3 linked regions of the Homo sapiens genome follow. The protein of the gene in region 3 purifies or fractionates together with the protein of the main gene of each other region. This does not show direct contact. Each region holds a gene or a part of one and is shown on either strand. Other genes may lie near its edges.

Region 1 (3,658 bases), on a different chromosome or scaffold from region 3:
TGTGGAAACTGAGGACAGAAAAGTTAAATAACTTGCCCCAAAACACACAGCTAAGTAGTGGCAGAACCAAGACTTGAATCCAGACAGTCTAGCTCATGAGTCCATGTTCTTCAGTATCAAATTATGTGAAAAGCGCAGGCTTTCTGGTTATTAACCTTACCTCCATCCCTAGGCACAGGCCAGGCTGATCTCTCTCTCTCCTATTCCCACCTCTCCCCACCTTCTTCTCTTTCTGAAAATAGCTTTAAAAGCCCATACACTGGTTAACCAAAAGGAGTCCCAAAGAGCCAAACAATCTTTCCTTGGTTTTGTTTCATCCGCTTTTCAGAAGCTCAAAAATTATAGAAAAGCAGAATTTTTTTTCTAAAAAACAAGATGTTTGACTGTAGAGATTTTTGAGTCCTACTTTGATTCATTCAACAAGTGAACACTGAGCTCCCGCTCTCTGCCAGAGGCACACTGGGTGTTGGAGACAACCACAAAGCCAACAGCAGGGCTCCTACCACATGGGCTTGCAAGAATTCCCTTACAAGTGACCACTACCCAAAACCAATCACGTCATGAAGATAAGAAGCACTTGCCAGGCCAGTTCCTTGGTTTGGAGGAATAGGGTTTTTTTGTTGTTTTTTTTTTTCCCCATAATTATCAGGGTTTTTTTTGTTTTTGTTTTTGTTTTTTTGAGACAGGGTCTTTCTCTGTCACCTAGGCTGGAGTGCAGTGGTGCCATCACGGCTCATTGCAGCCTTGACCTCCAGGCTCAGGTCCCCACCTCAGCCTCCCAAATAGCTGGGACTACAGGCATGCGCCACCACACCTGGATACTTTTTGTATTTTTTCTAGAGACAGAGTGTCCCTGTGTTGCCCAGGCTGGTCTTGAACTCCTGAGCTCAAGTGATCCTCCCACCTAGGCTTCTCAAAGTGCTGGGATTACAGGTGAGAGCCACTGTGCCCCTGGAGGAATAGTTTTTAAGAATTTAAGCACAGCAGAAATCCTGTCTCTGAAAAACCCTTTAGAACAAATAAATTTTATACTACCTTCAAATGTTACTGATACGCTTTGGCTTTGTGCTCCCACCCAAATCTCATCTCGAATTGTAATCCCACCTGGTGGAGGTAATTGGATCAGGGGGGCGGTTCCCCCATGCTGTTCTTGTGATAGTCAGTGAGTTCTCACGAGAGCTGATGATTTAAAAGTGGCAATTTCCCCTCCTTTCTGTCTCTCTCCTACTGCCGTGTAAGATCTGTCTAGCTTCCTCCTCGCCTCCTGCCATGATTGTAAGTTTCCTGAGGCCTCCCCATCCATGAGGAACTGTGAGTCAACTAAACCTATTTTCTTTATAAATTACCCAGTCTCAGGCAGTTCTTCTATAGCAGTGGACTAATAGTTACTAAGCTTTCACATCAAATCGGAATTACAAAAGTGACAATCCCCAAATCCCGAATAAGGCATGGCTAAAAATTTGTTTTGAAATGCAGAAAATACTATTTTTCATGAAAATGTTCAAAGTTCCTAGGTCAAGCCATGAATATTGATTTAACCAAGTCAATTGCTGAGCTTAGAGTAGAGGAAACGCTTCCCCCTTTCCTGGGCAAGGCACTGGCGAGAATAAATTAATAAATGCTTAATCATGGGATATGGCCCTTTCCACTCCTCTAACAACCCAAGGACCACACTGTGACACCCAATTTGGACAGCCCAAAATTAGCCAGAGTGCACTAAAGTCTGAAATAAAATTACTCACCACTCTCAATCAAAACCCCCATTCACAGAATGACTTATCCTTTGGTTATATGAAGAAAACAATTTAATTAATAAGCACTTTAGTAATCTCAGATAATTTATATACTTTTTAGTGGCTGCTTGCTGTCCTAGTTGAATCTCCATGCCATTTTTTGCAGTGTTAATTAAGTGAAATAAAAAGTTCTAGTAGAGTCAGAGATGGTATTTGGGGGCAAAGGAAAGAAAGGGGATAAAAATGATTAGTTGCTCCCTCTGATCAGAGACGTATCAAATATGTGGTCAGATATGGTTAGACACATATCACAGCCCATGGCTCATTAAATCATCACAATCCATTTGTTTCACGTGAGAAAATAGGTCTGGAGAGTTTAAGTAAATTGCCCGGGGTCGCACAGCTTTAAGGAAGGAAGCAGAACTTTAAACCAGGAATTTTCAATGCTCCCACCAGGGTGCTCCTGGGCGTGAGCGACAATAAACTGCAGCCTCTAACCTGATCCTTTTTTTTCCTCATCCCTGCTTCTGAACCCAGGTTTTCTAAAGGCACTAAATTTACTTTTTCTATTTTTTCCTTAATGCCTCTCATGGCAGTTAATAGCCAGGTCTTTGGTGGCAACTGGGGGAAACATGAAAAGGAAGGCGTTTCAATGATTGTATGGGTAGGTTGTTTATACCTGTGGCTTATAAGCAAATATTTTCAGCACAGGCTTTGAAAGAAATCATAATGACTGTAGGTGGGACATGCCGATGAAAAATATTTTTAGGCTGGGCGTGGTGGCTCACACCTGTAATCCCAGCACTTTAGGAGGCTGAGGTAGGTGGATCACTTGAGGTCAGGAGTTTGAGACCAGCCCTGACCAATATGGTGAAACCCCGTCTCTACTAAAAATACAAAAATTAGCCGGGTGTGGTGGTGCCCACCTGTAATTCCAGCTACTTGGGAGGTTAAGGCATGAGAATCGCTTGAACCCAGGAGGTGGAGGCTGCAGTGAGCCGAGATAGCGCCACTGCACTAAAAAAAAAAAAAAAAAGAAAAACTTTTTTTTTCTTCTTTTGAGATGAAGTCTTGCTTTGTCACCAGGCTGGAGTGCAGTAGCACAATCTCGGCTCACTGCAACCTCCACCACCCAGGTTTAAGTGATTCTCCTGCCTCAGCCTCCTGAATAGCTGGGATTACAGGCATGCGCCACCATGCCCAGCTAATTTTTGTATTTTTAGTAGAGATGGGTTTCACCATGTCGGCCAGGATGGTCACTGTCTCTTGACCTTGTGATCCACCCACCCAGAGTGCTGGGATTACAGGCGTGAGCCACCGTGCCCGGCAAAAAACATTTTTAAATACAAAAAAAGGTTGAAAAACTCATAGGAGGCATTACTGATTTTTCTAGGCTGTTGTAGCAGGACGAGCCGCAGACAAAACTCCTTAGACACCGGATTGAAGAAGGCAGACTTGCGTCTCAAAAGCCGAGCTCACCGCGTGAGCAATTCCCGTCCCTTTTAAGGGCTTACGACTCTAAGGGGGTCTGCGTGAGAGGGTCGTGATCGATTGAGCAAGCCAGGGGTACCTGACTGGGGGCTGCATGCACCGGTAATCAGAACAGAACACAACAGGACAGGGATTTTCACACTGCTTTTCTATAAAATGTCTGGAATCTATAGATAACATAACTGGTTAGGTCAGGGGTCGATCTTTAACTACCAGGCCCATGGCGTAGTGCCGGGCTGTCTGCCTGTGGATTTCGTTTCTGCCTTTTAGTTTTTACTTCTTTCTTTGGAGGCAGAAATTGGGCATAAGGCAATATGAGGGGTGGTCTCCTCTCTTACTGTAACTAAAAATTTATATAATTTTCTTCTTTAGAATTCTATGAAAGAAAAAAATCCCATTTTCCCAGGGAGAAACTGAACCATTCTGACCTCTGG
Region 2 (3,658 bases), on a different chromosome or scaffold from region 3:
CAAGCCATCTGCCCAAGGCTAGTCAAACAGGGGAGACACAGAGGCCAACTCGACTGCCCAAGGCTAACCAGATGGGGGAGGCAGAGAGGCCAAGTCGCCTGCCTAAGGCTAGTCAGACGGGGTATTCAGGCCTTGGCCTCCCCCTCTGCCTGCAGTGCTGCGTTACATAGCCTCATCTGTGTCAGCTGCCGAATGACCCACAGCTGCACTAAGCACTGAGCGATATCCCTTTTTCTTTTTGAGACAGGATCTTGAAGGTCTGTGGCCCAGGCTGAAATGCTGTGGCATGATCATGGCTCACTGAAGCCTCAACTTCCTGGGCTCAAATGATCCTCCCACTTCAGCCTTCCAAGTAGCTGGGACCACCAGCACGCACCACTGTGGGCGGCAAGTCACCCAGGTGCCGAGGCAAGAGACCGAGGGCACGAGCTGTTCCAGTGTAATAAAATATATAAAATAAGAATAGTTATACTAGATCTAGATCACAGACATGATTATATATGAATATCATTAATTAATTTGTAGCAATTACTCTTTATTCCAATATTATAATAATCCTCGCTCTACAATCATAACCTAGGAAAAACCAGGTCATACAGAGACAGGAGCTGGGGGGACATGGTGAGAAGTGACCAGAAGACAAGAGTGTGAGCCTTTTGTTATGCCCAGACAGGGCCACCAGAGGGCTCCTTGGTCTAGTGGTAACGCCAGCGTCTGGTAGGACGCCCGTTGCCAAGCAGACCATGGTCTAGCAGTAGCGTCAGTGTCAAGGAAAAACACCCACTACTTAGCAGACCAGGAAAGGGAGTCTCCCTTTCCCCAGGGGAGTTTAGAGAAAACTCTGCTCCTCCACCTCTTGTGGAGGGCCTGACATCAGTCAGGCTTGCCCGCAGTTATCCAGAGGCCTAATCGTCTCCCTGTGATGCTGTGCTTCAGTGGTCACGCTCCTAGTCCACCTTCATGTTCCATCCTGTACACCTGGCTCTGCCTTTTAGATAGCAGTAGCAAATTAGTGAAAGTACTAAAAGTCTCTGATATGCTGAAATAACGGCGTAAGCTGTCTCTCTGTCTCCTCTCTCTCTGCCTTGGCTGCCAGGCAGGGAAGGGCCCCCTGTCCAGTGGACACATGACCCACATGACCTCACCTATCATTGGAGATGGCTCACACTCCTAACCCTGCCCCTTTGTCTTGTATCCAATAAATATCAGTGCAGCCTGGCATTTGGGGCCACTACCGGTCTCCACGGCTTGGTGGTAGTGGTCCCCCGGGCCCAGCTGTCTTTTATCTCTTTGCCTTGTGTCTTTATTTCTACGCTCTCTCATCTCCGCACATGGGGAGAAAACCCACCGACCCTGTGGGGCTGGACCCTACACACCACCACACCCACCTAATTTTGAAATTTTTTGTAGAGACACGGTTTTGCCATGTTGCCCAGGCTGGTCTCGAACTCTCAGGCTCAAGTTATTCTCCCACTTCACCCTCCCAAAGCGCTGGGATTACAGCAGCCATGAACCACTGTGCCGGCCATTTTCTTCCATTTTTAGAGAAGGGTCTCACTCTGTAGCCCAGGAAGGAGCGCAGTGGCTATTCGTGGATGTGATCATAGCAAACTACAGTCCTAACCTCCCAGGCCCAAGTGATCCTCGGACCTCACTGAGTAGCTGGAACCACAGATCCCACCTATGGGACCATATATTCCCACATCACCATATCTGGCTTTTTTTTACTCTAACCTACTTGAGTATCAGAGGGCCCGACCCCCTCATGCCTCTGGTTTTCCAGATGTTTCCTACTGCTTTCATTTTTATTCATTTATTTATTTTGAGATGGATTCTCACTCTTGTCGCCCAGGCTGGAGTGCAGTGGCACAATTTTGGCTCACTACAACCTCTACCTCCCAGGTTCAAGTGATTCTCCTGCCCCAGCCTCCCCAAGTAGCTGGCACTACAGGCACCCATCACCACGCCTAGCTAATTTTTGTATTTTTAGTAGAGATGGGCTTTCATCATGTTGGCCAGGCTGGTCTTGAACTCCTGACCTCAAGTGATCCACCTGCCTCGGCCTCCAAAGTGCCGGGATTACAGGCGTGAATCACTACACTTGGCCTCATTTTTATTCTTTAGATGAACCTTTGAATAATCTGCTCATATTCCCAAAAGATCTTTTGTGTTTTGACTTGGTGTTGACTGATTTTACAGAAGTTAACGTATTTACACTATTGAAATTTTCTAGTCTAAAACAAGACTTATTTCATCTTCCTCAAAGTATAGTTTCTTCATTTAGAAATATTAGGCCAGACGCAGTGGCTCACGCCTGTAATCCCAGCACCTTGGGAGGCCGATGCGGGCGGATCACGAGGTCAGGAAATTAAGACCATTCTGGTTAACATAGTGAAACCCCATCTCTACTTAAAAAAAAAAAAAATACAAAAAATTAGCCAGGCGTGGTGGCAGGCACCTGTAGTCCCAGCTATGCGGGAGGCTGAGACAGGAGAATGGCATGAACCCGGGAGGCGGAGCTTGCAGTGAGCAGAGATGCACCATTGCAGTCCAGCCTGGGTGGCGACAGAGCAAGACTCCATCTCAAAAAAAAAAAGAAATATTAATCTTGGGCCAGGTGCGGTGGCTCACGCCTGTAATCCCAGCACCTTGGGAGGCTGAAGCAGGCAGATTGCTTGGCCTCTGGAGTTCGAGACCAGCCTGGGCAACATGACAAAACCGCATCTCTACAAAAACTACAAAAAATAGCTGGGGGTGGTGGCGTGCACTGTGGCCCCAGCTACTCAGGGAGCTGAGGTGGGAGAATCGTTTGAGCCCAGAACGTCAAGAGTGCAATGAGCCAAGATGGTGCCACTGCACTCCAGCCTGGGTGAGACCATCTCAGAAACAAAACAGAAAGAATAAATGTGACTCTTCTCAAGGTTCTTGGTACATATTGTGTGTACTTCTATTGCTGCACAACAAATCACCACCAACTTCAGGGCTGAAACCAGCACATCCACTTATCATCTTACTGCATTCGTCGTCAGGGGTGCAGGTGCAGCGTGGCTGGGACGCAGGCTGAATTCCAGGGGCCGGCTGCACTGCATTCTCATGAGGAGCTGGAGGACCCTCTTCTAAGCCCATTCTGGTTGGAGGCAGAATTTATTCCCGGTTCAAGGAATGAAGTTCCCGTTTTCTCGCTGCCCTAAAAAGCCTCTGACACTTTTACTGTCTGGCTTCCCTGATCAGGTCGGGCCCTAAAGAGCCTCTGACACTTTTACTGTCTGGCTTCCCTGATCAGGTCGGGCCCTAAAGAGCCTCTGACACTTTTACTGTCTGGCTTCCCTGATCAGGTCGGGCCCTAAAGAGCCTCTGACACTTTTACTGTCTGGCTTCCCTGATCAGGTCGGGCCCATCCAGGATCATCTCGCATTTTGATGACGTCAAACTCAATGGATGAGTGAGCTAATCGCAGGAGAGACACACCTCCCTCTTCCTCATTCCACCCACACTCGAGGGGAGGGTTACACATGGCTGTTTCCCAGGGGCAGGGATCGTGTGGGCTGTCTTGAGTCCTGCCACCTTGTTACCAAACCGCCTTCCAGGAAGATGTGTGCCTCCACAGCAACGTGTCCGAGCCCCTGATCCAGAGTCAACTGATATTCTTTGGCCTCTC
Region 3 (2,651 bases):
TTCCTAAAGGATGTATTTGATAAAACACTGAGTAAAGAAAATGGTAAACATCTATGCAAATCCAGATAAATGTTGCCTGTATAAAACAAAAACAATAATAATATCTAATTTGTAGACTGACAATAAACGACAGACAAAAATAATGATATTAACAATAACAATGTGAACCAGGAGGAGGCTGAATGAAGCTTCAGCATACAAAGTCCATACAATGTAAAAAAGGAGAGGTTAAACATTGTTTGGCTTTGAACTTTTTAAGTGATATGGGCAATTCTCTAAAATAATTGAAATAGGAATAAAAATAGAATAAGAAAAAACCTCAATCAAAAAAAGAAACAAAAATTATAAAAAAGGACAAATAGAAATAAAAATTAAGATGGTAGAAAGTAGATCCAATTATTTCAATACTCACAGCAATTGTAAATAAACTAAACTTAATATTTAAAAGACATAGATTATCAGATTGAAACGTGAGAAGGATGACCCCTACAATTAAATAACTGGCTTCAATTAAATATTGCATTAGAGGTCTTTCTTATTTAACATAGTAATAAAGAACAATAAATTAATTAGAAGGATAAGAACTGGAAAGAAATGCAATTGGCATTACTTACACAGAAAATACAAAAAACCTCAGGCAAATCATTAGCCACATAGTATCTTGCAGAAGAGAAGGATTCAAACAAGACACAAACATAGTGATAAATTCCACACTAAAAGTTTTTTTTCCTCAAAAGAAAAGAAATTGAAAAGATGAACCACAAACTGCAAGAAGATATTTTGCAACATTATCTATATTCTAGAATATACAAAGAATTTCTACAAATCAATTAAGATAAAACACAGAAAAATGGGCATAGATATTTCACAGAATAGGACACGTATATGGCCAAATAAACAATGTAATTATCAATCCTATTAGTAATTAGAGAAAAGTAAATGAAGATGACAATGAGACACCATTTTAAAATACTAGGTTGGCAAAAATCAGACATTTGATAATACCAAGGTAGGAGAGATTATGGATCAATGGAGCGCTTATACATTAATGATGGAAATATTCCTTTGTATGTCCACTTTGAAAAACAATTTGGCATTATCCTGTAAAGGTGAATATTCTCATACTCAACAACTCAGCAATGTGACTCCTAGGGATGTTTCCTAGAGGAGCTTGTACTTGCACAAGAATGTGTGTAGTAGCATTATTTGCAATAGGAAAAACTAGAAATAACCAAAGTGTTTCATTAGCAGGAAACCAGATAAACTGTAGTATATCACAGATATTATTCAGCAGTGAAATAGAATAAACTATAGCTACAGTGATATGACAATATATATAAACCCTAGAAACAAAATGTGACTTTAGAAAGCAAGTCCCAAGAAAACAACACACAGCTCAAAATAAAGCAAAACTAAATCATATATAGTTTATGAAAACATATATATAACACTATAATCTAAAAAAGCATAATTCAGGAAAATAACTGTCAGGGGAAGAAGGGGAATGGCACAAGGGAAAACATAGGTAAATGGAAGTTAGAAATACTGGTGCTTGAGTTCTTAATTGTTCATTATATCACTATGCTTTATAACTTAATGTTACATATACGTGTGTGTGTGTATATATTATTTCATATGTATCACAATTTATTTAAAAATATAAAACAGTTAAAAACAAACAAACAAAACCTCTTTGCTTATTTAGTGAAGGAATTGGAGCTTGAAGTCATGTCCCAGCCCAATTCTTTCCATTAGACTTAAAATACAATCTAATCATGTCAATGACAAGCTTAAAAATTTTTTAATGATGCCACAGCACTATGGATAAAAGAACAAATGCCCAAGCATGCTGAATAAAATATGACATTCATAATTTGAATTTCTCCAGTCTCTTTTACCATTCTCATATATGTATGCATTCTAGACAACATTAAATATTTCAGTTTCTTGAATGCAAAATATTTTTTATACCCTAGTATTTCTAACAATCAGTAACTTTATAATAAAATTATAGTAAAAATCGTAAACATTTTTTCTTGAGGTGGGATTTTGCTCTGTTGTCCAGGCTGGAGTTCAGTGGCATGAGCATAGCTCACCGCATCCTTGAACTCCTGGGCTCAAGCAATCCTCCTGCCTCAGTCTCCCAAGTACCTAAGACTACAGGTGCACACTACCACGCCTTGCTAATTACTTTATTTTTTGTTGAGATGTAGGCCTTGCTATGTTGCCTAGGCTAGTCTAGAACTCCTGTGTTCAAGTGATACTCCCACCTTCATCTCCCAAAGTGCTGGGATTACAGGAATGAGCCACTACACCTGGCTCAAAACTAGTAAAATATTTTAGCAGTAGAAACTTAAAGTAGATAATTACAAATGGCTTTTCCTTCCAAAAGTGCTGCCTCAGTTTCTTCAATTGCAAAGTGAGGGTGACATCCTTTACCTCATATATTTGATGTGAGGATTGAATAAGGTAGTATAGGACACAGCACTCACTGACAGGGAGTGTAGTTTAGGCAAAGCTTATAATATGAATAAAGTTATCACTTTAAAAGTTGTATCAATACAGTCAAACTGAAGGGAAAGAGCTGGCTAATTTTTATAACCAATTACAGTATAATGCCATTTAAATATAATTTGGACTCACATCCAACA

What was found.
Region 1: the proteins of DTWD1 (region 3) and GALM purify together in Homo sapiens (affinity purification with mass spectrometry; one large-scale study listed by BioGRID and IntAct). This does not show direct contact.
Region 2: the proteins of DTWD1 (region 3) and SPATA33 purify together in Homo sapiens (affinity purification with mass spectrometry; one large-scale study listed by BioGRID and IntAct). This does not show direct contact.

What each region holds. Positions count from the first base shown.
Region 1 is NC_000002.12:38,669,007-38,672,664, reverse strand, and holds part of GALM (galactose mutarotase), read right to left. Parts: intron 1-3,658. UniProt on the Homo sapiens protein: Mutarotase that catalyzes the interconversion of beta-D-galactose and alpha-D-galactose during galactose metabolism.
Region 2 is NC_000016.10:89,664,248-89,667,905, reverse strand, and holds part of SPATA33 (spermatogenesis-associated protein 33), read right to left. Parts: intron 1-3,658. UniProt on the Homo sapiens protein: Plays an important role in sperm motility and male fertility. Required for sperm midpiece flexibility and for the localization of sperm calcineurin to the mitochondria. Promotes mitophagy as well as acts as an autophagy mediator in male germline cells.
Region 3 is NC_000015.10:49,638,949-49,641,599, reverse strand, and holds part of DTWD1 (tRNA-uridine aminocarboxypropyltransferase 1), read right to left. Parts: exon of another isoform or gene 777-2,651; intron 1-776. UniProt on the Homo sapiens protein: Catalyzes the formation of 3-(3-amino-3-carboxypropyl)uridine (acp3U) at position 20 in the D-loop of several cytoplasmic tRNAs (acp3U(20)).